Regions from separate parts of the Homo sapiens genome. Here region 2 is linked to region 1. The links come from fine-mapping of genetic effects on gene expression. A gene starts in region 1. The other region holds a variant in brackets. All regions are shown on one strand. Distances are between the middles of the regions.

Evidence for each region. PIP is the estimated chance that this variant, and not a neighbour inherited with it, causes the effect.
Region 2: its variant is fine-mapped to the expression of TCIRG1 in ovary (GTEx, PIP 0.90).

What each region holds. Positions count from the first base shown.
Region 1 is chr11:68,033,548-68,042,925 of GRCh38, forward strand. TCIRG1 (T cell immune regulator 1, ATPase H+ transporting V0 subunit a3) reads left to right here and starts at 5,478. Exons shown (of 20, transcript NM_006019.4): 1 at 5,478-5,572; 2 at 7,721-7,841; 3 at 8,206-8,284; 4 at 9,096-9,316. The coding sequence starts at 7,725. NDUFS8 (NADH:ubiquinone oxidoreductase core subunit S8) reads left to right here. Exons shown (of 7, transcript NM_002496.4): 6 at 2,706-2,834; 7 at 2,915-3,097. The coding sequence ends at 3,046. It overlaps MIR4691 (microRNA 4691), which reads left to right and starts at 350; the gene lies at 350-434. RefSeq lists an enhancer at 4,837-5,458 and silencers at 5,350-5,529, 5,590-5,669, 7,350-7,479.
Region 2 is chr11:68,189,068-68,204,732 of GRCh38, forward strand. It overlaps KMT5B (lysine methyltransferase 5B), which reads right to left. Exons shown (of 11, transcript NM_017635.5): 2 at 850-1,085. The coding sequence starts at 1,009. Among named protein-coding and RNA genes, the nearest start is that of KMT5B, 16 kb to the right of the region's middle. The variant G/A (reference allele first, on the strand shown) is at 8,158.

The sequences.
Region 1 (9,378 bases):
TGACCCCTGGGCCTCTGAGCCATGGGGTGACACCTGAGGCCATCCACGCCTCCCTGGATGTAGCCACCGTTTCCGGAGTCCTGCTTGTGTGCCTGTTGCAGCTTCCCTTCCCCAGTGGCTGCTCCCCTGAGGCCCGGCTTTCCGTTCTCTTAGTGGGTCTCGTGCTTACCCGTGGGGGCCAGGCCTGCCAGCACGGGAACAATATGACTCGGTCAGAGCTCTGGTCAGACCCCTGTGTGTGCCTGGCAGGAGCCCCGGCAGCCGCCGCCGCTACTTTCTGTGTGCACAGCAACCCCTCCCAGTGTTCTGTGACTCGGGTGGCTCCTGTCCAGATCCTAGTTTGTCCTCTGGAGCACTCCCAGGTCCTCCAGGCCATGAGCTGCGGCCCTGATGTCTCTACTCCAGCCACGGACTGAGAGTGCATAGGAGTGTCCCCAAACAGCAGTCACGATGGTCACAACCTTGGCTTCCAGACAGTGAGTGCTGTCCACAGACAGACCCGGTGCTGTGCCATGTGTGTGACTCACAGCCTCTCCTGTAATCTCCACAACCCCTCGAGGAGGTCGAGGTTATTGTCTCCATCTTTATAAGCACTAAAGGATGAGCCTGCCAGCCACAGGTCCCACTGTGAGTTGTGGACACTACATTTCTGGGATGGGGGCATATGAGAGTCCTTGCCAAGCACATTTGAAGGTTTTCCCAGCCAGCCCCTCCCCCAGCGGGCTACCCAGGAACTGAGAGTTAGGACGTGCCCTTGAGTTTGGGCTGTGCCCCCACTTGCTGTGTAGCTTTGGGGAGCCCCTCAACCTCTCGGAACCTTGTTTTTCTCATCCATCAAATGGAGAGAAGTAGATTTAAGGCACAGGATTGCACCCAACAGTGTAGGCATTCTTGGCGATGTTGCAGGTTCGGCTCCAGACCATCGGGGTAAACTGAGTCACACAGCTGTTTTGGTTTTCCAGTGCATTTAAAAGTTAGATTTAGACCGGGCACAGTGGCTCATGCCTGTAATTCCAGCACTTTGAGAAGCCGAGGTGGGCGGATCACTTGAGGTCAAGAGTTCGAGACCAGCCTGGCCAACATAGTGAAACCCCGTCTCTACTAAAAATAACAAAACTTAGCCGGGCACGTTGGCAGGTCCCTGTAATCTCAGCTACTTGCTAGGCTGAGGCACGATAATCACTTGAACCGGGAGGTGGGGGTTGCAGTGAGCCAAAATTGAAAAAAAAAAAAAAAATTAGGGCCGGTTGCGGTGGCTCACGCCTGTAATCCCAGCACTTTGGGAGGCCAAGGTGGGCGGATCACAAGGTCAGGAATTCAAGACCAGCCTGGCCAACATGTTGAAACCCCGTCTCTAGTAAAAATACAAAAATTAGCCGGGTGTGGGGTTGCACACCTGTAGTCCCAGCTACTCAAGAGGCTGAGGCAGGAGAATTGCTTGAACCTGGGAGGCGGAGGTTGCAGTGAACTATGATTGCACCACCATACTCCATCCTGGGCCACAGAGCAAGACTTCGTCTCAAAAAAAAAAAAAGGATTTACACTGTACTGTAGGCTGCGAAGTGTCTAAAACACAATGTATATACCTTAATTAAAAATACTTTAGGGGCCAGGCACAGTGGCTCACACCTGTAGTCCAAGTGCTTTGGGAGGTCAAGGTGAGGGGATTACTTGAGCCCAGGAGTTTGAGACCAGCCTGGGCAACATGGCAAAACCCCGACTCTACAACAACAACAAAAAATACAAAAAATTAGCCCCTGTAGGCCCAGTTACTTGGGAGGTTGAGGTGGGAGGATCGCTTGAGCCTGGGAGGTTGAGGCTGCAGTGAGCTATGAGCTGCACCACTGTACTCCAGCCTGGGTGACAGGGCAAGACTCTGTCTCAAAAAACAAAAACAACAACAAAAACTTTATTCCTAAAAAGTGCTGACCCAGAGATAAGAAGCAAGCACATGGTTGGTAAAATGACATCAGTGAGCTTGCTTTATGCAGGGTTGCCCCAAACCTTCAATTTGTAAAACTCAAAATATCTGGAAAGCTTGGTGAGGCGAGGCGGGACTGTAACTCAGCACTCACCGCAGGGTGAGACCCTTAGGGCAGCGGGTGCTACACTGAACAAAGCGGTGAACAGCCCCCTCGTGAGAGGGGGTTCTTGGCAGATGACGCCAGCAGCTGACAAACAGGCAAGGCAGGCCGGGCACGGTGGCTCACGCTTGTAATCCCAGCACTTTGGGAGTCCAAGGTAAGCGGATCACAAGGTCAAGAGATCGAGACCATCCTGGTCTACATGGTGAAACCCCATCTCTACTAAAAAATACAAAAATTAGCTGGGCGTGGTGATGCACACTTGTAGTCCCAGCTACTCAGGGGGCTGAGGCAGGAGAATCACTTGAACCGGGAAGGCCGAGGTTGCAGTGAGCCGAGATTGTGCTGCTGCACTCCAGCCTGGCGACAGAGCGAGACTCTATCTCAAAAAAAAAAAAAAAAAAAAAAAAACCAGCAAGGCAGGGACGCCAGCAGGGCACGTGCTGAGGAGACAGGCGCGAGCACCAGAGGTGCAGGGCGGCCTCTTAGCCGGAGTCCAGGAGGCCTTTGAGGGGAGAGGGCTTCTGGCAGACCCCAGGGGTGGGGATGAGCAGTGACAGGGGCCCTGGGGGCTGGGATGTGACAGGGCAGCGTGGCAGTGTCTGGTGGCCCCTCCCGCAGGCCATCACCATCGAGGCTGAGCCAAGAGCTGATGGCAGCCGCCGGACCACCCGCTATGACATCGACATGACCAAGTGCATCTACTGCGGCTTCTGCCAGGAGGCCTGTCCCGTGGATGCCATCGTCGAGGCACGTGAGGCCCCCGGGTGGGAGGGGGCCTGAGGCTCCTCAGCAGGGCCTAACCACCGTCCCTGCACCTCAACCTGCAGGGCCCCAACTTTGAGTTCTCCACGGAGACCCATGAGGAGCTGCTGTACAACAAGGAGAAGTTGCTCAACAACGGGGACAAGTGGGAGGCCGAGATCGCCGCCAACATCCAGGCTGACTACTTGTATCGGTGACGCCCCACCGGCCCGCAGCCCCTGCTGCCCAATAAAACCACTCCGACCCCACGGCCTCTTGTCTTGACTCTGGTGGTCCAGGGTGGGGCCGTTCCCGGCCTGCCTGAGGCCTGTGGTGCCTCCAACTGGACTAGGTCGCCACCTAGTCTTTATGCTCTCTGGAGTCCTGCTGCCCCAGCCCTGCCTTCCTGTAGACTCCAGGGCCCCACCAGGCTCTCATGGCTAGACCACAGGCCGCAGCATCCCTGTCACCCTGCCTCTTCCTGGGCGTCTTCCCCAAGGCCCAGCGATGCCAGAGGTCACCACAGACCTGCCGTTCCCACTCTCCCGGGTGTCCTGGCTGGGGCCTGGGCCTCCTGTCTCCCAAGAGCCATCCACTTGTAAGACGCTTAGGACTTGGAGCCTCCCAAGACCTCAGGCTGAAGAACAGCAAGTGGCAGAAACTCAGGCCGGGGCATCCTTGCTGGGGGTAGGAGGAAGCCTGCTTGGGGTGACAGTCACACGAGGGTGACACAGGCCCTGCTGGCCCTGAGCTGGCCTGCGTCCAGCCACATCCTCTTTCCTGTGTTCCCTACGCCAGGGTGCTGGCCCGGCCACTGCTCACCACTTCCTGCTTTGCTGGCCCAGCGACACGGTGGGGTTTCCCTAGGGCCACACACAAGCCCCTTGCCCATATAATGGCCAAAAGCAGCCCCCCTGAACTTGTGCTAAGTACTGTGGAAGGATTTCACTTCATTTGCAGTGAGGAAACCAGCTCCGAGAGGTGAAAGGGCTTGCTCAGGGCCATGCAGGGCACATCCCATAATAAAACTCAGTTCAGAGACCTTGACCCCCCCCATCTACCATCATTTCCAAAAGTGCTTTTTACAAAGCACTACTTTGTAAAAAGCTACTTCTTCGAAAGAACAAGTTTCCTGGCCCAGTGAGTGTTGGAAATGCTCCAGCTGCTGTGTGCCTGCTGGCAGGTACTGCATGGTAGACATTCAAGGCTCTGAGAAGGCCTGCAGCAAAAACACCAGCCTCTCCCAGCCCATTCCCAGGGAGCTTTTCTCAGGTCTAACACCTGGGCCTCCTTCCTAGACCAGGCATTGCCATCTAATGCCAAAGTGGCCAGGCTCCCGCTTGGGCCCCACAGCCTGTGGCACTGGGGTGAGAAGTAACTGCAGGAGGCGAGGGGAAGCCTGGAGCCCGGGAAGTGTCCACAGGTCTGGCCCGCAGCTCATCTTGGCCACTGATGAAAACAGGTGTTCTTTCCAAAAACAAGGCAGGCGCAGGACTCCTGAAGCACCGCCGGTTTAGCTTTTCCCAGACGTAACCGCCGTCAGAGCGTGGCATGGAGCCTGTAGCTGTGCACTGAATACTTCTATTCCAAGCGGGTCAGTCTTTCCAGCTCACCGCTGGGTTCTTTCCCTTACCGTGGTCTCCCAGGCACTTACTGCTGAGACCCCACTCAGGCTGTCTGGTTGTATCAGGCCCCGACCCTGTCAGAACAGGCCTATGGCGCCCAACCACAAGTCCCCCAATTTTCTGAGGAACCACAGCTGAGCTTGGCTGTGACTCAGTTTCCAGGCCCGGCTCTGGGGCTCCACTTGTCCACCCCTGCCGCAGCCCCACAGGCCTGTGCTCGCTGTGTGGGGCTTAGGGATCACCAGAGCTGAAGGGCCCCTGGCCTCCAGTGGGAATGCCCCAGGCCTGTCCAAAGTGCAGGCAGCTGGACGGTCGTGAGTCCCAGCTTCCAGGCACTAGGACCTGATGACGCCCATGGTGCTGACCTGGAGCAAGGTCACAGTGACACCCCCCTCTACCCCCCGCGGCTGCAGCTGCAGGTGGAGCTGACAGCTGGCCTCTGGCCCCAGGGTATCTCCCAGGGCCTGCTGGGTGCGGGGCGCTGGGCAGAACAAGGCAGCATGGCCTGGCCCTGTGTCCTGCTGCCAGTGAAGCAGGCCCAGAGTGGGGCAGCCACCCACCCAAGGGCCAGAGCGGGGCCTCTCCAGGGTGGTCAAGAGCAGGAAGGTGTAAGCACCGGCGGGTTTCACTGCCGCCCAAGGGAGGGGTCCCGGAGGTGGGGGAGCATCCTGGGGACCCCAAGCCCATGAGCCTGCGAATGTTGGGGTCCCATCAGCCAGAGGCGCACAAGCCTCGAAGTGAGAGGAGAGCAGGGTCTCATCTCCTATCCTGAGCTGGGCCTGAGCGGAGCTGCCCCTGCATCGGGGCCAGCATAGACGCGCGCGGTTGGCAGTGGTCTGTTATCCGCTCCTTTCTCCAGGCCTCCTCTCCGGGATTAAGCGCCTCAGGACCCGTCCGCCAGGCCACAGCCTGGGCTCAACCTCTCCCAGACTTCCTGGACTCCAGTGGAGCCTTGGGCCGGGGGCGGGGCGTCCCTGGCCCCTCCCCGTCGTCCCGCCTGCCCGGAAAGGAGTGAGCGGCGCCTAGTCCCGGGCTGGCGGGAGTGCAGTTCTGAGTCCCGCCCGGCGTGCGCGGAGCGGGGCAGCCAGCAGCGGAGGCGCGGCGCGCAGCACACCCGGGGTGAGTGCCCCTGCCGGGGTCTGCGGAGCCCCAGAATTTCCTGCCCACCCTCTTCCCCCTGCCCCGGGGAGGAGATCCTGGCGCCCCACCCAGTTGGCTCCGTGAATGCAGCTCAGCCCGCCACCCCGCAGGGTGTCAGGCCTTGCGGGGGGCCACGGAGGATCCCCAAGGGAGGAGGAGAAGGATGGGGTGTTTACCAACACAGCCCAGCGTTCCCGGGCCTGGTGTGCGCGGAGCTTTCCCCGCTGCTGCTTCCTTGGAGGGAGGGACCCATTCTACAGATGGGGAAGCTGAGACCACACAACTAGGAAGTGTCAGAGCTGGAGACCAGCTGGGTCATTTGACTCCAGAGCCCACCCCATTTGGAATGGAGGGGGCGCCAGACCCTCTCCTACTGCCTTCCCATCATCTGGAGGGGAGGGCAGAGGTGCAGAGAGACCTGCTGGGTTCCTGGAGGGGCCAGGAAAGGGGCACAGGGTGAGGAGTGGGCTGGAGCCTGGACCCCAGGGCCGCAGGATGGAGGCGTATTCATTTACACCATAAAAGTGGCTGGGTGACCCTGGCTAGAGCGGGGACCAAGGGGGACAGGGGTAGGGGGTGAGCCAGTGGAGCCTCACATGCCAGGCACGGGGGCTGATCACGTCCCCACACCTTTCCCCCCGCCCATTACAGGTTGTTCCCCCACCCCCTGGGAAGTGCTGGAAGGAGCCCGGCCCTCGAGCCCTCGGCATAGTGGCTGTGGGAGCCCTGATGGCCCTGAGCCAGGGGTGACCCCTCCCCAGATCCCCAGAGCTGATTCCCCACACCTCCTTATTTGGCCAGCACAGCCCCAAAGGGAGCCAGGTCAGACACAACCCTCCTCTGAGCTCACCCTTTGTGCTGGGCACATAACATTGGACTTTACCTCTCCAAGTGTCAGTGGAGTCCTGTATGAAACAAAAGCACCGTACCCCCTCCCCAAGGGTTTCTCCCCCCAGGGATTAGTGTGAGGTCGTGTGGATGAAGGGATTCAGTTGAGGCTCTGGTTATTTTTGTCACCTCCCTAGATCCTGTCTCTGTCAGGGGTGCCACGTCCCATTCACCCAAAGAGGAAGTAGAGGCACAGAGAGGGTGAGAGACTTGCCCAAGGTCACACACCCAATCTCAGCCTGGGCTCCAAGTCCCTCTGCCCTGTGGCCGGGCCTGGTCCTTAGGGATGGAACCCAGCCCCGCTGCCCCCTGCCCTGCCCACCTGCAGCCTTGGGCCATCTGCTCAGTGTTCCCTCGTTCCCTCCTTCTCTCCTTTCCCAGGCTGGGGCTGGGGCTGCGTTTCCCTGTTTAGAGTTAAGTAAACCAGACCCAGGGGAGGAAGTGACTGGCTGGGCAGGCGGGGCCCTGACCAGGCCTGTCCCCTCCCCCTAATTTTCGAGCTAAGCAACTGATTCCCACAGAGGGGCCCTGGGCCCTGAGAGCAGTGGCTTTGGAGCTGGAGGGGCCCCAGCATCCAGGGCGGGTTGGAGGTGGCCTGGCACCTGCCCCCACCCCACATCGGCCTTGAGCAAGGCCCCGGGCCCTTCCCCGCCATTCTGTAGTTTCACTTTTGTTGGTTTCAACACCTGGAAGGCTGCGGCTGCTGCCGGGCGGCCCGGGCCTCAGGGGACAGCCCCCCCACAGCAGTGCTCCCTGGCTAGCCCCAGGGTACCCGGTGGAGATGCCCGCTCCTACCACTCAGCACATGCAGCTCCACAGGGAGCAGCGAGGGCTCCAGCCACCCCCGGGGCAGCCCTGGGCCTAAGTGCCTGGGCCAGTGGGGTCCTGTCTAGGGTGACGGCAGCCCGAGAGGAGGGAGGCCAGAGTGAAGGTGGGGGTGGAGCCGGTGTCACTGGGAGACGCTGGAGGTAGGGGCGGGGGTCCCCATGGGCAGAGCAAGCCAGGAGAGAGCTTGAGGTCGGCCTGAGGGTGGGCTTCGGGGTCTCCCAGTCCCACTGCTTACTTTCTGCGTGACCTCAGCACCGCATCAAGCCTGCCCAGGCCTCAGTTTCCACCTCTGTCAGATGGGGGTGGTAACAGCAGCTTCCAGGATTCAGTGAGTGAAGGTGCACAGGTGCCCGTGGTTGGGAACTGTCTGTGGTCTGCCCCTGACTGGCCCCCATCCGTGTCCACCCACAGGACCATGGGCTCCATGTTCCGGAGCGAGGAGGTGGCCCTGGTCCAGCTCTTTCTGCCCACAGCGGCTGCCTACACCTGCGTGAGTCGGCTGGGCGAGCTGGGCCTCGTGGAGTTCAGAGACGTGAGTTGGGTGGGCAGGCGTGGGAAGGGGGCTACTGCCAAGGTTAGCCCGGAGGCCGGTCCAGGATGGGGACTGCCCCCCCTCCGCCATAGGGCCCTGGCCCCATTTGAACCCCAGCGGCCCCTGCCATGGGCACTGCTCATGGGAAGCCCGCAGCTGAGGCCCCTGAGCTGGCTCCTCCCCATACCCTCCTGGGGCATGGGGTCTGGTCTGTGCTCTGATCTGCGTCTTGTGGCTCCCAGGGCACTCCACACCTTTCTGGAGGAGGCAGCTAAGGCCTGGGGAGAGTCAGGCCTGGGCTCTAGGGTGAGGAGCTCCCTGACCCCCTTCCCGGGACACTCACCCCTCCGTGTGGCACCCACAGCTCAACGCCTCGGTGAGCGCCTTCCAGAGACGCTTTGTGGTTGATGTTCGGCGCTGTGAGGAGCTGGAGAAGACCTTCAGTGAGTTGGTCCCAGGCCTACATTCCAGGCAGGCTTCCTGGAGGAGGCATGGGCCAAGTTTGATCTGAAAGGAAGAGTCTGGGTTTGCCAGGTGGAAGGCAGAGAAGGGAGGTATATGCAGGGCCCTGCAGGGCCAAGACAGAGCAGCTGGGATCTGTGAAGTGTGCTTGCGAAGGTGGCTGCCTTGTGTGGGCTGAGCAGAGGGCCTAGGGCAGGGCTGGCTGGGGAGGCCTCGAATACAGCATAAGAGCCCAGGACTTCGTCCTGTGGGCGCCAGGAAGCCACAGGGGTTTCTAAGCAGGGAAGAGGCACAGACAGCTTTCTCCTCTACAGCTGGGCTGGGGTGGGTGGGGCCCAGGATCTAGGGTAGGGTACCCCTAAGGAGCAGGCAAAAGGGACCCCTGCCCTGGGCAACCCCTCTCAGGAGGAGCCTGTGGGGGCACCAAGGCAGGGGCATGGGGCAGGCAGGGTTTTGTGTTTGCTGGTGCAGTTTACAGCTTTTCAATGATCAGGCAGACACAGGACTCACGCCAGCTCCGGTCCCAAGCCCTGCAGCGCAAGGGCCGGCCTGTGGGGAGACCTCAGGCCCTCTTCTGAGTGGTGGCCAAGGGACTGGGGAGGGAGAGTGAGCCCAGACCTGAGCTCAGGGAGGGGAGCACAGCTTCTGGATGAAAGTTTGGCCGGGATTTTCTGGCCACCTCCACCTGGTGAATCCAGCAGCTGGTGGCCGATGGAGTTTGGGGCAGCAGGTGGGGCCCTCAACTGTTGAGACAACCTCAACTGCACCCCACTCCCGTTCCTCTGCGCCCAGCCTTCCTGCAGGAGGAGGTGCGGCGGGCTGGGCTGGTCCTGCCCCCGCCAAAGGGGAGGCTGCCGGCACCCCCACCCCGGGACCTGCTGCGCATCCAGGAGGAGACGGAGCGCCTGGCCCAGGAGCTGCGGGATGTGCGGGGCAACCAGCAGGCCCTGCGGGCCCAGCTGCACCAGCTGCAGCTCCACGCCGCCGTGCTACGCCAGGGCCATGAACCTCAGGTCAGCTCCCACCCAGGCAGGAGACTGGGGGGCTGGGGAGGGGCTGTCCAGCCTAGGGCTCA
Region 2 (15,665 bases), 160 kb after region 1:
TATCAGAACTTGTACAATCTGAAACTACAGAAAATCCCAGGCTAATCCAAATCCCTGGAAACAGGCCAATGCCAATCTGAATTAAGGATATTCAAAGGTGGCTAGATTCACGTTAGAAAAAGAAGAAAAGCTGTCCTCTTTAACATGACATACGTTTGGACATATAGCTGCCTAGTTAGGTATACACTTGTCCTCAGTCATTTTACTACTTTTAGAGGAACTATGAAATACGCACCAAATCTACAACTTCCTGAACTCTCAAAAAGCAGCCTCTTTCCTATCAAGAGGTATAGAGGAAATAAAGTAACTTATCAGCAGTGTTTCACTGTCAGGATGAACAACTGTCTACCCTGTATAAATAGAATAAATTGCTATGATTTGTGAGGCTGCCCTAAAGCAGTCAGTTCTATCTATCCTCATTCTACTTATGTAAATTACAGTTGGCGTCATTATTCATATTATTCCATGAAACATTTGTGGAAATTAGCAAAGAAGTACATACCTATACTTACATCTATTAAAAAAATACAGGTTAACCTGTAAGAAGTTCAATTAAAATTTTAAAAATTTAGTAAGACATATCAACCATTCAGGTAAATTCTACAAAATATAAAGTAACAGACAGAAAAGCATGATTAAAATAATTATATGAAGCATTAAACTTGAGTTTTATATAGTTTGATGAGAATAAAAATTGACACAACTTTGAGAGTAAAAAGACTATATTGTTAATTATGAAAATGCAAAAAATTATTTAAGACAAAAGAAAACAGAATACACATTACAAACTGGAAAGAATTACTACCCCATATCACAATCAGAACATTGAAGGTTTAAGTGTGTACATACATCTGTTCGACCTCCTCTCGACTGCATTTTTGCCAGCCTTCAGGGTGTCCTTCCCCGTGTGCTGTAATTTTGATTGATTCTGCTGATGGTCATTAGACAACTTGCCTCCATTTCTCCTGCCATTCACCACCATGTTCTTGGATTCTCCCAACCACTTCATACCCACAGACAGCCTGACCCAGGTGCATTTAGTCACTCTCTTCAAATAGCTTAGAGAATACTTTCAATGTTCTCTCCTAACAGAAACAAAATATGAAAAACAAAACAAAATGGGGAGATAAATACATGAAAGATCATGCTAAACAGACCCTTGAGAAAGATATATAATATTAAAAGGACAGTCATTCACAGTATAATGATGTTTTGGTCAATGACAGACCACATAAACAACGGTGGTTCCATAAGATTATAACAGAGCTGGACATACACTTCATAAAATTCGTATTGCCTAGTATTTACTATATTATACTTTTTACTGTTATTTTAGAGTATATTCCTTCTACTTTTTTTTAAGTTAACTATAAAACAGCCCCAGGCAGGTTATTCAAGAGATATTCCAGAGGAAGGCACTGTTATCACAGGAGATGACAGCTCCATGCATGCTACTGCCCCTGAAGACGCTCCAGTGGGACAAGATGCAGAGGGAGAAGACAGTGATATGGATAATCCCGACCCTGTGTGGGCTGAAGCTAATGTTTGTGACCTGTGTCTCAGTTTTTAATAAAAAAGTTAAAAAAATAAAAGTAGGAAAAGGTTATAGAATAAAGATATTTTAAAAAGAATATAGCTGAGCACAGTGGCTCATGCCTGTAATCCCAGCACTTTGGGGGGCCATGGCAGGCGGACTGCTTGAGCCCAGAAGTTGAGACCAGCCTGGGCAACATGGCAAGACCCTGCCTCTACAGAAAATAAAAAAGTGAGCCAGGCATAGTGGCATGAGCCTGTGGTTCCAGCTACTTGAGAGGCTGAGATGGGAGGTCAAGCCTGCAGTGAAGCTATGATTGCAACACTGTACTCCAGCCTGGGTGACAGAGCAACCCTGTCTTCCAAAAAAGAAAAGAAAATAATAATATATTTTTGTGTCTTTTTGTCTGTGTTTTGAGACAGTCTCACTCTATGGCCCAGGCTGGAGTGCAGTGGTGTGATTATGGCTCACTGCAACCTCAAATTCCAGGGCTCAACCAATCCTCCCACTCAGCCTCCCAAGTAGCTGGGACTAGAGGCAGGAGCCACCACATCCAGTTAATTTTAAAACTTTGTGTGTGTGTGTGTGTGTGTGTGTGTGTGTGTGTAGAGACGAGGTCTCACTATGTTGCCCAGACTGGTCTCAAACTCCTGGCCTCAAGCAATCCCTCCACCTTGGCCTCCAAAAGTGCTGGGATTACAGGCATGAGCCACTGTGCCTGGCTAAGAAAGAATATACATTCATTTATTTGAGACAGGGCCTTGCTCTGTCGCCCCGGCTAGAGTGCAGTGGTGCCATCTCTTCTCATTGCAACCTCCACCTCCCAGGTTCAAATGATTCTCCTGCCTCAGTCTCCTGAGTAGGTGGGATTACAGGCGTGCACCACCACACCCAGCTAATTTTTGTATTTTTAGTAGAGACAGGGTTTTACCATGTTGGCTAGGCTGGTCTCGAACTCCCAACCTCAAGTGATCCACCTGCCTTGGCCTCCGAAAGTGCTGGGATTATAGGCGTGAGCCACTGTATGTGGCCAGAATGTATTTTTGTATAGCTATATGTGTTTGTATTTTAAGCCAAGTATTACCATAAAAGAGTCAAAAAGTTTTTAGAAAAAAAAACTTTATAAAGTAAAACAGTTACAAGCTAAGGTTAATTATTGAAGAAACATTTCAAAATAAATTTAGCGTAGCCTAAGTGTACGGTGTTAATAAAGTCTACAATAGTATACATGTACTAGGTCTACGCAATTACTCACCACTCACTCACTGACTCATCCAGAGCAACTTCAAATCCTGCAAGTTCCATTCATGGGAAGTGCCCTTCACAGGTGTACCATTTTAAAATCTTTTATTCTGTATTTTTACTGTATCTTTATGTTTATATATGTTTAGATAACAAATAATATTGTGTTACCAGTGACTACAGTAGTCAGTACAGTAACAAGCTGTACAGGTTAGTGGCCTAGGAGCAATGGCCCAGGTGTGTAGTAGGCTAGACTACCTAGGTTTGTGTAAGTACACTCTATGACAACTGCATGACAACAAAACCACCTAACCTCACATTTCTAGAATGTGTCCGAGACACACTCTATGAGTGCACTCTATGATATCTGCACGATAACAAAATCACCTAAACTCACATTTCTCAGAATGTGTGGTATCCCTGTCATTAAGCAATGCATGACTATACTTTAATAACTGATGTCTCCACTCTTTAAAGACAATCTTGGCTCTCCCCAATCATATGATGCCTGCTCAGGAATACAGTGCCCCCAGACTGGCCAGAATGTAAACTACAGAAGGCAGGGACTCATTCTGACTTGTTCCTTGCTTGTGTTTAGAACAGTACTGACAAACAGCAGGTGCTCAACAAATATTTCTCTCAGTAAACAGTAAGAACCATCTTTGCTCCTTGTTATACTGATATCTAGTAGAGCTTTCTCATCTATCTGCTCAAACTACATGTTTTGGTAATGCTCTGAACTGGGTGAGTAAACTACAAGGAAGTTATTTATCTCTTTGTTCCAAGGCAAGCTTAGGAAAAGGCATCTATACTAAGCTTTGTCCATCACAGTAAGAGACTCCTAACTGTTGTGCTGGCTACTCATCACCACAAACAAAATTTAGCAGAGGGACAAGAGTAAGGAAAGTAAAGGACTTCATATCTCTTTGTTGTTGTTAGTTTCAATTCACTGTTCTAGATATTTAAGAAACCAATATTCAGATATCAAAGTAGTGCCCATCTGGAAATGTCTACCTTATCATTCCTTCACAATGGCAACAAAACTGAGAAGCTACTGTATTCGGTAATGTAAATGTATCTCTTACTATCTGAATTTGGGAACCGATTGATCTGAATAGTGGGGGATGCTTGTAATTTATAATGACCTTTGGAAATGAGGATATTATACATCACACTCACTACTAATGGAATGAGAAAAAGGATGTCCATGATACCACCTCATTATCGAATTATGCATTAGTACAAGTCAGACTAAAAAGGCCCTACGATAAAGGGCAAAAATACAGAACTTCAGAGCCAAAGATGCCTTAAGATCATCAGTGCAACTCCTTCAATTTGCAAATGAAACTGAGGCCACATGCCTAAAACCACATGATCCACCTGCAGCAGTCTCACGAGTAGAACCCAGCACTGCTGCCCAACAAATTCTCAACTACACCAGACGCAGGTCAATTTCCTTTCCACAAACACATAGAAAAGTACAAATGATAAATTACTTCGAAGTATTCACAAAAATACATGCCTGGACATACCTTTAATGATACTCAACACAAACACAAAACATGAATTTTTACTTGATCTCAGGTCTCTTTCATGTTACAGGAGTATCTGTGTGAGTTCACTGGAGGGTAAGATGTGCATGTGAGCAGTATGCTTAGGGGAATGGCAAAAAAAAAAAATCTGATCAATGCTAAAGACAACTTTACAATTGTTTTCTAACATGAATTTTTTTTCTGGTTCCCTTACTATTTAAATTCGATTATAGTATTTAACTTTTAACGTGCCTTTTGATTTTTCTCATAGGTTTCACTAAACAGTCTTCTATCTATTCTACATCAGTTATAAGCTAAGGATTTTTCAATTATTAAATTTTACCAAATTTAACATTAAAACCTCTCATTAATGATCATATATCTTACACTTAGGAGAAAAGGCATAGAATTGAACAGCAGTATACTTTTTTTTTTTTTTTTAAGAGACAGGGTCTTGCTCTGTCACCCAGGTTGGAGTGCAGTGGTGTGATGATGGCTCACTGTGGCCTCAAAGTCCTAGGCTCAAGCAATCCTCCACCTCAGCCTCCCAAAGTGTTAGGATTACCAGCATGAGCCACCACACTCAGTAAGAGCAGTGTACTTTTGAGGTATAAAGTACAAAGAAAGCTTGAGAAAAAGAGCAATGGGTGGTCCATTGGGAGCCTTGGATCTTGGATCCCCAGCAGTTTTGCCTATGGACTCTAAAATGGACTTCATTTAAAGAAACCCATGGAACAGTAATAGATAAAAACATAAAACAATATGAATTGTGGCATTCAAATCCTAGCACTTCGGGAGAGCATCAAGTACCAAGTTTTTTTTTTTTTTTTTTTGAGACAGAGTATCGCTCCCTCACCCAGGCTGGAGTGCAGTGTCCACGATCTTGGCTCACTGCAACCTCCACCTCCCAGGTTCAAGCTATTCTCATGCCTCAGCCTCCTAAGTAGCTGGAATTACAGGTGTGCACCACCATGCCCGCCTAATTTTTGTATTTTTTAGTAGAGACAGAGTTTCACCATGTTGGCCAGGCTAGTCTTGAACTCCTGGCCACAAGCGATCCTCCCACCTCGGCCTCCCAAAGTGCTACGATTACAGGCATGAGCCATTGTGCCCGGCCAAGTGTTCAAAAATTATAGCCTACTATCACAATGCATTGAAGATTTGAATTTCAATAACCTCGTCAAGACTTAGATCTTTAAAAGCTTCAAGGTTCATCTGCATTAAAGCTCTCCATCATTGAGCCATCTCACAAAAGTAAAAGCTTAAAGGGACTAAAATCCGTGACTACATTCCATTTTATATCCCTTCCTCAGTTTTCTTCAATTTCCTTGACCCCTAGGGTCTTTCATATTACTTATGTTCCTTTAAGACAAGAGCCAAAGAAACAGCACTTTCTGAAAAACAGATGTTCTGTGGCTATAAGCTTTCATTGGTACAGATGCATAAACTTGGCATGATAAATTTAGAATTAGGTTTTTTGTTGTATCCTATAAAAAGCTGCATTAACAACAAGCAAATGGGCCAGGTGGTGGCTTATGCCTATAATCCTAGCCCTCTGGGAGACCAAGGCAAGAGGACTGCTTGAGGCCAGGAGTTCGAGACCAGCCTGGGCAACACGGCAAGACCTCATTGCTACTAAAAATAAAAATTAAAAAATTAGCCAAGGATGGTGGTATGCACCTGTAGTTACACTCAGGAGGCTGAAGTGGGAGGATGGCTGCAGCCCAGGAAATTGCGGACACAGTGAGCCATGACCATGCCATTACACTGCAGCCTGGGTGACAGAGTGAAAAAAAAGAAAATGATGAAGTGGTAAATTTATATAAATGTATTTTATATTTCAAGTTAGATTATACTCTCAGAAGCTATGTGGTTTACAGAAAATAGCCCTCTCCTATCCCACCTCTGTCTCTTACTAGGCAGTTGGTAACCAACAAAGTCACTTAACCTCTCTGAACCTTAACTTCCATTATCCAGAAAGTGAAGCTGATCATATTTTCCCCATCCACCTCACAGGGCTGTTGTGAGGATCACATGAAATAATGTACCTAAAAAAGTTGTTTCTATAAAAGGTACAACACAGATAGATCCAGGGTCCTGTTACATAGTTGCAAGTCACACTCTTATCTCCAGGGCCTGGGAAGGTAGGTGATTTAAGCACACAGAAAGCACCTACCATGTCCAGGGCACATACATGGTAACAAGATTATGTTATTTTCCTCTGAATACACAGAATACTACCATGGGCTAATTCTAAGGAGCAAGACTGTAACTTTCCCTAAAATTATAGCTCAGCATTCATAGTGCTCTAGGGCAATTATGGGTTGTAACATATTAATGGTTTGCAACATTTTTTTTACTATGTTGTGACCAGTAATTTTTTTTAAATGAAAGAACACAGAGCAGAATATTTCACAATGCATCCCACATAGTAAGTTTTGTTTTAGTTATATATGTGTAAATGTGTGTATACTTGGTCATTAAATAAAATGAATTTTTGGCCAGGTGTGGTGGCTCATGCCTGTAATCCCAACACTTTGGGAGGCCCAGGTGGGCAGATCACTTGAATCCAGGAGTTTGAGACCAGCCTCGCCAACATGGTGAAACCCCGTCTCTACCAAAAATACAAAAATTAGCTAGGTGTGGTGGTATGCGCCTGTAATCCCAGCTACTCAGGAGGCTGAAGCAGGAGGATCACTTGAGCCCAGGAGATGGAGGGTGAAGTGAGCCAAGACTGCACCACTGGACTCCAGCCTGAGTGACAGAGCAAGACCCTGTCTAAAATAAAATAAAATAAAATGCATTTTTTTCCTGGGGGTGTGGGGAAGGGCAATGCACCATGCCTTTCTCCTCTGTCTGCCTGGAATGTTATAACACCATCTCTTTGCCTAATTCCTTAAGTCCCAGTTCAGTGTTCACATCCTCTAGGAAGTGTTCCTTGACATTCACTGCCAAATCTAGTTATATACTTATGCTATAAAACTTAAGTGAAAGCCCTTATGTGACTATATTGTTTAAGTGTCTGCTTCCTTAATTGAGAGTTCCTAAGGTTGAGAATCTATTTTTCTTATCTCTGGCCCTTGTGTATCTAGTATAGCACACAGTACATCCTAGAGGCACTCAACTGATGAAATAAATAGGTTGTATTCTAAACTGCATCATAGAAACTATATTTCTGCATTAAAAAAAACTGTAAATTAAAGATACTTCCTGACCTCTTCAAATCCTCTCCTTTCTCAAAATGTCCATGGTGTGTAAGGGGGTGAGAGAAGCTCCTGCACAGACAGAAACAAGGCAGGAATCACAGCTGCTACCACCACTAACTTCCCTACTGCTTGCCATTATACTTTCTGGTTTACTCCCTAGTCCTTGACCCTCCAGAGAAAAAGAACCAGGACCAGGAAAAGTGCTTTTGGTCCTTTAGGAAATCATCTGTAGAATGCCTGTGTTTAACACACAACTTATGGATAATCATGGAACAATGTACTTTTAGGCTTCTCAGGAGTCCTAATATACCTCAAAAATAAGACATAAAGCATAATTATATGAAATAGAAATAAAATATATGGAATAGAAAGGTTATCCATGGAGAGTCTTTTTTTTTTTCTTTTTTTGAGACGGAGTCTCGCACTGTCCCCAAGTTAGAGTGCAGTGGCCCAAACTCGGCTCACTACAACCTCTGCTTCCTGGGTTCAAGCGATTCTCCTGACTCAGCCTCCCGAGTAGCTAGGACTACAGGTGCGCACCACCACACCTGGCTAATTTTTTTTTGCTATTTTAGTAGACACGGGGTTTCACCATGTTGGCCAGGATAGTCTCGATCTCCTGACCTCATGATCTGCCTGTCTC[G/A]GCCTCCCAAAGTGCTGGAATTACAGGCGTGAGCCACCACGCCCGGCCATGGAAAGTCTTTAAGTCCCAACCAAGATGTCTACTTGAGAGAAAGCAGAAAATTTGGGGATGAGGCCCAGCAATCTGTGTTGTAGTAAGACCTCCAGGTGATGCAAGCTCCAGTGTAAGAGCAATCGCTCTAATTTACTTATTCATTTTATCATGTTAGGGCAAAGAATAGATACAAAATTTTAAGAAAAATTATGGAATAAAAAATTAAGGAAATTATAATATCAACCAAACATTTTTCTGAGAATTAGGAAAATTCACCAACAAATCACTTTAGTAATAGCAAACTTTGGTTCAATTCATGGAACACAGACTGAGATCCACTCTAATGTGCACATAATTTAAATTAAATGTGGGTTAATGATCCAAACTGGAAAAAATCTGTGCCCTCAGATCTCATTTATATTGTGATCAACTGATATTATTTGAACTCAAGGTAATTTAATCTAACAGGTACTTCTGTCAATCACAGAACATGGCTAAATTTCACTAGTATGAATGCACTGCACATGTCTGGATGTAGCCTAGCAGAGAGAGATTCTCCACAGGTCCATATGATAAAAGCTATCAAAAGATCTTTCTTAAACTGATAAATGAAACATTTGTAAAAACAATTCTAATGAAGCTATCAATAATTTGGGGGCTATTTAAAAAAATTTTCAGCTCAAAATGAATATATATTGTACTAATGATCAGGTCATCATTTGTTCTGCCCTCCTAAGTGTGGAATCTGTTCTTGCTGGCATGATCTTTCCTCTAAGACCACACGTTTACACATTAAAGGTAGCGATGGGATTTTAAAAAGCTAACACAAGTCGATACTGTAGTAGAGTATAGACAAATAGGGGTTGAAAACATCCCAGCACTTTGGGAGGCCAAGGCGGGCAGATCACCTGAGGTCAGGAGTTCGAGACCAGCCTGGACAACAAGGTGAAACCCCATCCCTGCTAAAAATACAAAAATTAGCCAGGCGTGGTGTCACATGCCTGTAATCCCAGCTACTTGGGAGGCTGAGGCAGGAGAATAGCTTCAACCCAGGAGGCAGAGGTTGCACTGAGCCAAGATTGTGCCACTGCACTCCATCCAGCCTGGGCGACACAGCAAGACTGTGAAAAGAAAAGAAGAGAAAAGAAGAGGAAAGAAGATGAAGGAAAGGAAAGGAAAAAAGACAAGACAAGACAAGACAAGACAAGACAAGACAAGACAAGACAAGACAAGACAAGACAGGGCGGCTAGCAAAGCCTAAATGCTTCATAGCTACCACAGAGGTGCCCCCTCCCAACAAACACACAAGGGTGCAGACTCCCATGGGACATAGCTGGCTCACGTGGAAATGTCCCCATGGTCACGGTTTGGCTGACACACTCTGAGCTAATTAGCCACTGACTACATTTAGAAGTAAAAATTGCCTCAATTTTGTCCCAAATTGTTAGGAAAAACATTTCAAGAAAGTACTGACTGCTTCTTTTTTTTTTGAGACGGAGTCTCGCTCTGTTGCCCAGGCTGGAGTGCAGTGGCACGATCTTGGCTCACTGCAACCTCCGCTTCCCGGGTTCAAGCCATTCTCCTGCCTCAACCTCCTGAGTAGCTGGAACTGCAGATGCACGCCATCACACCCGGCTGATTTTTTGTATTTCTAGTAAAGATGGGGTTTCACCGTGTTAGCCAGGCTGGTCTCAATCTCCTGACCTTGTGATCTGCCCGCCTTGGCCTCCCATAGTGCTGGGATTACAGGCGTGAGCCACCACGCCCGGCCATTACTGACCACTTCTTAAATGGTGTATTAGCTTGGTGCAAAAGTAATAAAGTAATTGCGTTGTTTTTTTTTTAGTTACAAATCCTGTTCTGATTTCCCAATATAAAAATGTCAGGAAAATTAGACATCCACTATATTCCAGACACTGTTGCAGGCACTGAGAATACAGCATGGAACAAAATAAGGCTTCTGCCCTCATCTGTGCTTATATTCTAATGGAAAAAAGCACTAGGAAATAATAAATTAACGAATGAATGTCGGCACCTTTTGGGGGGAATAAGCCATTTATGGTGGCAGGGAGTGTTTCAGGTGGAGAAGGAGGGTGATAGTGGCTGTTTTCTAAGACAGCAAGGGATGTGAAGGGACAGCCAGGCATCAGGCAAGAAGCATGCAGTAGACAAAGGGAAGGGCAAACACAAGGCCCAGAGGCTGGCGTGGCTGGGGCAAATATGGAGGAAGAGTGGGAGGATGAGGTCAGAGAGGCTGCCACAGGGAAGAAGGGCTTCAAAGCCACTGCTGAGACTTGGGCCTTTACTCCCAGTGAGAGGGAAAGCAGAGGAGTGACACGATCCAACCCACAGTTTTAAAGGACCATGCTGGCAGCTTGCTACATGGTACTTTAAAAAAGCAGTTCTAATGAAGCTACTAATAATTTCTAGGACAAGAGAATGCAGGGAGACGTTATTAGTAGTAGTAGTCTATTTACTAACTGACTACTGCTAGCCAGAGGAGAACTAGTGGCTGCAGCAGCAGAGGTGGCAAGAAGTGGTTGGCTTCGAGATCTTTTCTGAAGGTTCCGCTGATAGTCGGGAACTGCTGACAGATTGAATGCAGGTGTAGGAGAAAGAGGACTCAAAAATACCTGCAAATGAAGAATGGAATTAATATTTAGGGATGTGACAAAGACTATAGGAAGATTGGCTTCCGCAAGGACTGCGGTGTGGGAATTTGGTTTTGGTCATTTTTTCTTCCTTTTTGGGGGTCTTTTTTGGTTTTAGTCACTTTTGAGATGCCCACTACAGATCCAACTGGAGTTGGCAGCTGGATACCAGGGTCTGGAGTCCAGCTCCAAGCTGAAGATAAAAATCTGGTATTTTTATCTTCAAATAAAATCAAAGTATTAATGGCATTTCAAGCCATGGAATCAGATGAAATCTAGGACTCAGTGCAGATCAATGAAGTCCAAGGACTGGGTGTCGGGGGCACTTTAACATGTATAGGTCAAGAGGAGGAGAAGCAGCACAGGATCACAAAAGGAGCAACAAGTGAGAAGCAGAGCCAGGCATGACAGGGACCACTCTGTGGAGGGAGTTACCAACTCAGGCAAGGACTATAGGTGCCCAGTAAGCAAATACTTTTATTTTATGAGTCTAAACTCGTGGAAAGGATGGGCTATTGCTGATCTGTGAGCCTTGCTCAGAAACAACAGAGAACTTCTAAATGGACACAATGTCTTAAAACACGCACTTGTGAGGAAGACGGGGCTTTGCTTTAAGAAACAGATGGCAGAGGGCAATATCAGGAACGAGAGAGAGAGAGACTGACTCGCAGGCCAGAAAAGACAAATGTAAGTTAAAATTATGGAGTGGGAGGTGATGGGAATAGGTTAGTTAATTTGAGAAGGCAAGCCTTCAGAGCGCTTATAGGATCTGTGTTAAAAAAATTTTTTTAAACTAATAGATTGGTTAAATCTCTGGATGGGAGTAATACAGATGATCTGAGTAGGAAAACGAAGTGGAATTCCTGAGGACTACTGTGCAAGGCTTTGTGCCTTCTACTTTCGTGAGTATTCACAGAAATGATGCAATCAGGCTCTGAGAAAATGGAATTGGGATTCTGCTCCAAGATGGGCAGCATCACTTCCCCAAGGGATTTACCCAGCACTGAAATCAACAGGAAGAGTCACCTTATGTGGTTTCACTGGATCAACACATGGGAAAAGAAGCACTTACTACAGATTCTGGTACCAAACATAAATAAGGAGGTGGGGGGTGAGGGGACAATTTATGATCAAGATAAAACATACTGGAAAACTGCTAAAATAAGAAATGTATTTAAAGGGGAAAAGATTTCAAGAATGATTTCCAGTTGTATTTAAAGCGGAAACTCCTAATCATAACACGATGCCACTAAGGTGAGAAGCGCGACACCCACCACCACCAGCACCACCACAATGCATTCCAAATCACCAGTGCTACCGTTGCTGGGGGGAAGGATAACTTTCAAAAGTATTTTTTCCCCAAACGTTTACAGTGAACCTATTTACTTATAATCAGAAAAAAACTGAAAACCTTAATACTTTAACACATTTCAAAAGAAAGCAGCATTGATTCATAGAAAATGGGCTACGTTCACATAACCATGCCTGTTCTATGCCAGTGATGGCCCCTCAACAAATGTCAATGCCCTTCTCTTTCCAGGCTCTTTATGAGATTATAAATTGTTGAGTGACTTTTGAGAAATTGTGTCCAATTTGAGAACTCTGATTCCAATCCATTTTTACTTAAACACAGGCATTTTTTGCTTAATATCCTAAAAACAAACTAAGATTAAAAAAAAAATCTGTCAAAAAAGTTAAAACACTGATTCTGAATGACTAGAAAGAATGTTAACGTAATTCCTGTGACATTACCGAGAACCCTCTAGCCAGTTGACATGCTGAACTTGTCTGCAAACAGTTTATCTTAGAGAAATTATCCAGTGGCAGGGAAACAATCCCCAAGTGGTTGAAAAAGAAAAGTCAATACACATTTTTAAAAAGTAGGTTCTGGCTGGGTGTGGTGGCTCACGCCTGTAATCCCAACACTTAGGGAGGCCGAAGCAGGTGGATTCCTTGAGCCCAGGAGTTCAAGACCAGCCTGGGCAACATGGTCAGACCCCAGTCTCTACCAAAAAAAAAAAAAAAAAAAAATTAGTCGGGTGTGGTGGTGCGTGCTTGTAGTCCCAGGTACTCAGGAGGCTGAGGTGGGAGGATGGCTTGAGTCCAGGAGATTGCACCACTGCACTCTAGCCTAGGTGATAGAGCAAGACTCTGTCTCAAAGAAATAATAAAAAGCAGGTTCTAGCCTGTTAGAGGACTTTCATAAATCTTTATTTAGAAAGGCAAAGAAAACATTTTTCAAGTGATTTAGTTATAATTTGGTAAGAAAACAATCCAGTACACCACTGGTTAACAGTGAGTGAGATTACAATGGAGAATGACATCACAAGCAATATTTACCTGCTACATGTTCAACTTTTCAAAATAAACATCTGTGACTTTTGTAACAAAATATTAAAGATACTTACACAAAGGAAAGGGAAACAGCTTGGCAGCTTCCCACCACAGGGCCTTTGCACTTGGGGTGCCGCCACACTGCTCCTCAGTCCCTGCCCAACCCCACTTCTCCAGCTATATAGATTTCCTTGTTATACATTTTAACCCTTAACGTTTCTCAGCATGGTGCTTATTACAACCATACTCACTACTCTGTGTAATTATCTGGTAACACCTGCCTTCCCTACTAGCTAAGACACACTTTTTTTTTTTTTTTTTTTTGAGACAAACTCTCACTCTGTTGCCCAGGCTGGAGTGCAGTGGCTCAATCTCAGCTCACTGCAACCCCTGCCTCCCGGGTTCAAGCGATTCTCCTGCCTCAGCCTCCTGAGTAGCTGGGATTACAGGCGCGCACCACTATGCCCGGCTAATTTTTGTATTTTTAGTAGACACGGGGTTTCACCATGTTGGTTGGGCTGGTCTTGAACTCTTGACCTCGTGATTTGCCCACCTCGGCCTCCCAAAGTACTGGGATTACAGGCGTAAGCCACTGCACCTGGCTTTATTTCCATGTTTTGGCCGAATAATCCTGCTGTGAACGTGGGTGTACAAAATACCTGTTTGAGTACCCGCTTTAATTCTTTTGACGATATACCCAGAAGTAGAATTGCCGGGTCATATGGTAATTCTATGCTAAACTTTTTCTTTTTAGATGGAGTCTTGCTCTGTCACCCAGGCTGTAGTGCAGTGGCACGATCTCAGCTCACTGCAACCTCCGCCTCCTGGGTTCCAGGGATTCTCCTGCCTCAGCCTCCTGAGTAGCTGGGATTACAGGTGTGTGCCATCACACCCAGCTAATTTTTGTATTTTTAGGAGAGACGAGGTTTCACCATGTTGGTCAGGCTGGTCTCGAACTCCTGACCTCGTGATCTGCCTGCCTCGGCCTCCCAAAGTGCTGGGATTACAGGCGTGAGGCACCGCACCCGGCCCCATACACTTTCATATCATTAGAATCCAGCACAAGACCAGACATAGGTCCATTCATATCACCTTCCCTTTCTATTCTCAAACCAACTGCTACACATAAGCAGAATCGGTTTTTAGTTTTCTCCTAAATGTGAAATCACAAAAGGACTTGACATCAAAGAATTCCAAATCGGTCTTTATCAATGGCTATTCCAAAGCCGTCTGCAATCAATATTGCAATAACTAAGGCTCCACGGAATCCTATGGTATCAATCCCAGCGATGAGGCCAATAAAAGAAGCCCTGCAAAGCTATCAGAAGCATTTGTGACCAATATTCCATCATAACACCATTAACACTGCTTGACAGGGCAATTTCTCAGTTGCTAATTTGTTAGAAAACTACCACGAATTCACGTTCATACCTGTAACCTTAAAACTTGCTCCTATAAACATTGTTGTCTCACCTGAGAAGCTAGGTGACTTGTCAGAGTAGTTCAACGGGGTGTTAGTATTATGAAAAGAGAAAGGCCTCAGGGTTTTCATTTCCCTGAATTCACAATTATGCTTCTACCTAAGGCAGAGCCTTTACTTTAAAATTAGAGCTGTCACGCTAATTCAAATGGTAATCAGGTATCTAGAACCATCAACTCCATAGCAAAGAATACGTCTCTATACTCCTAAAATAATTACAAATGTCCATGATATTATCATTCCTACTTTCCTTCTCTAGCTTTCATAGGGTCAAGCTTGGATGCATTTTGCTTCACCCAATTCAACAGCTTTCCCAAGTACCCTCAGGTGGTAATGCCCTCACTCAGGCCACCAAGAGAATAGCGTCTGAAGCTGAGCAGTTTACCTACCACCAAGGTAGAATGCTTCACCCACTGCCCTTTCAGAATAAAACGATGGCCACAGACACCATCACTAAGTTTTGAAAAAGACTAAACTTGTTGAGCTAACAGCTCTAAAGCAGACTGTAGTATGGTGGAAAACGGCCCCCAAAGACATCGGCTCCTAATCTCTGGAGCCTGTGAATGCTACCTTATAAGGAAAATGGTCTTTGAAGATGTTATAAAAAATTTTGAGATAAAAGAGATTATCCTAGATTATCTGGGTAAGCCTTAAATGCCACTCAAATGACTTTATAAGAGGCAGAGGGAGATTTGACACCTCACAAAGTACAGAAGGTGAAGCAGACTGGAGTGATGTGGCCACAGGTGAGGGAATGCTGCAGCCCACCAGAGGCTGGAAGAAGCAAAGAGCAGCTTCCCTCCACAGCCCTGCCAACGCCTTGACTTTGGCCCAGTGAAACTGATGTTGAACTTCTGGCCTCGAAAACCGTGAGAGAATAAATTTCCGGTTTTTTTTTTTTTTTTTTTTTTTTGACACAGAGTCTCACATGTTGCCTAGGCTGGAGGCAGTGGTGCGATCTCAGCTCACTGTAACCTCCACCTCCCAGATTCCAGCAATTTCTCCTGCCT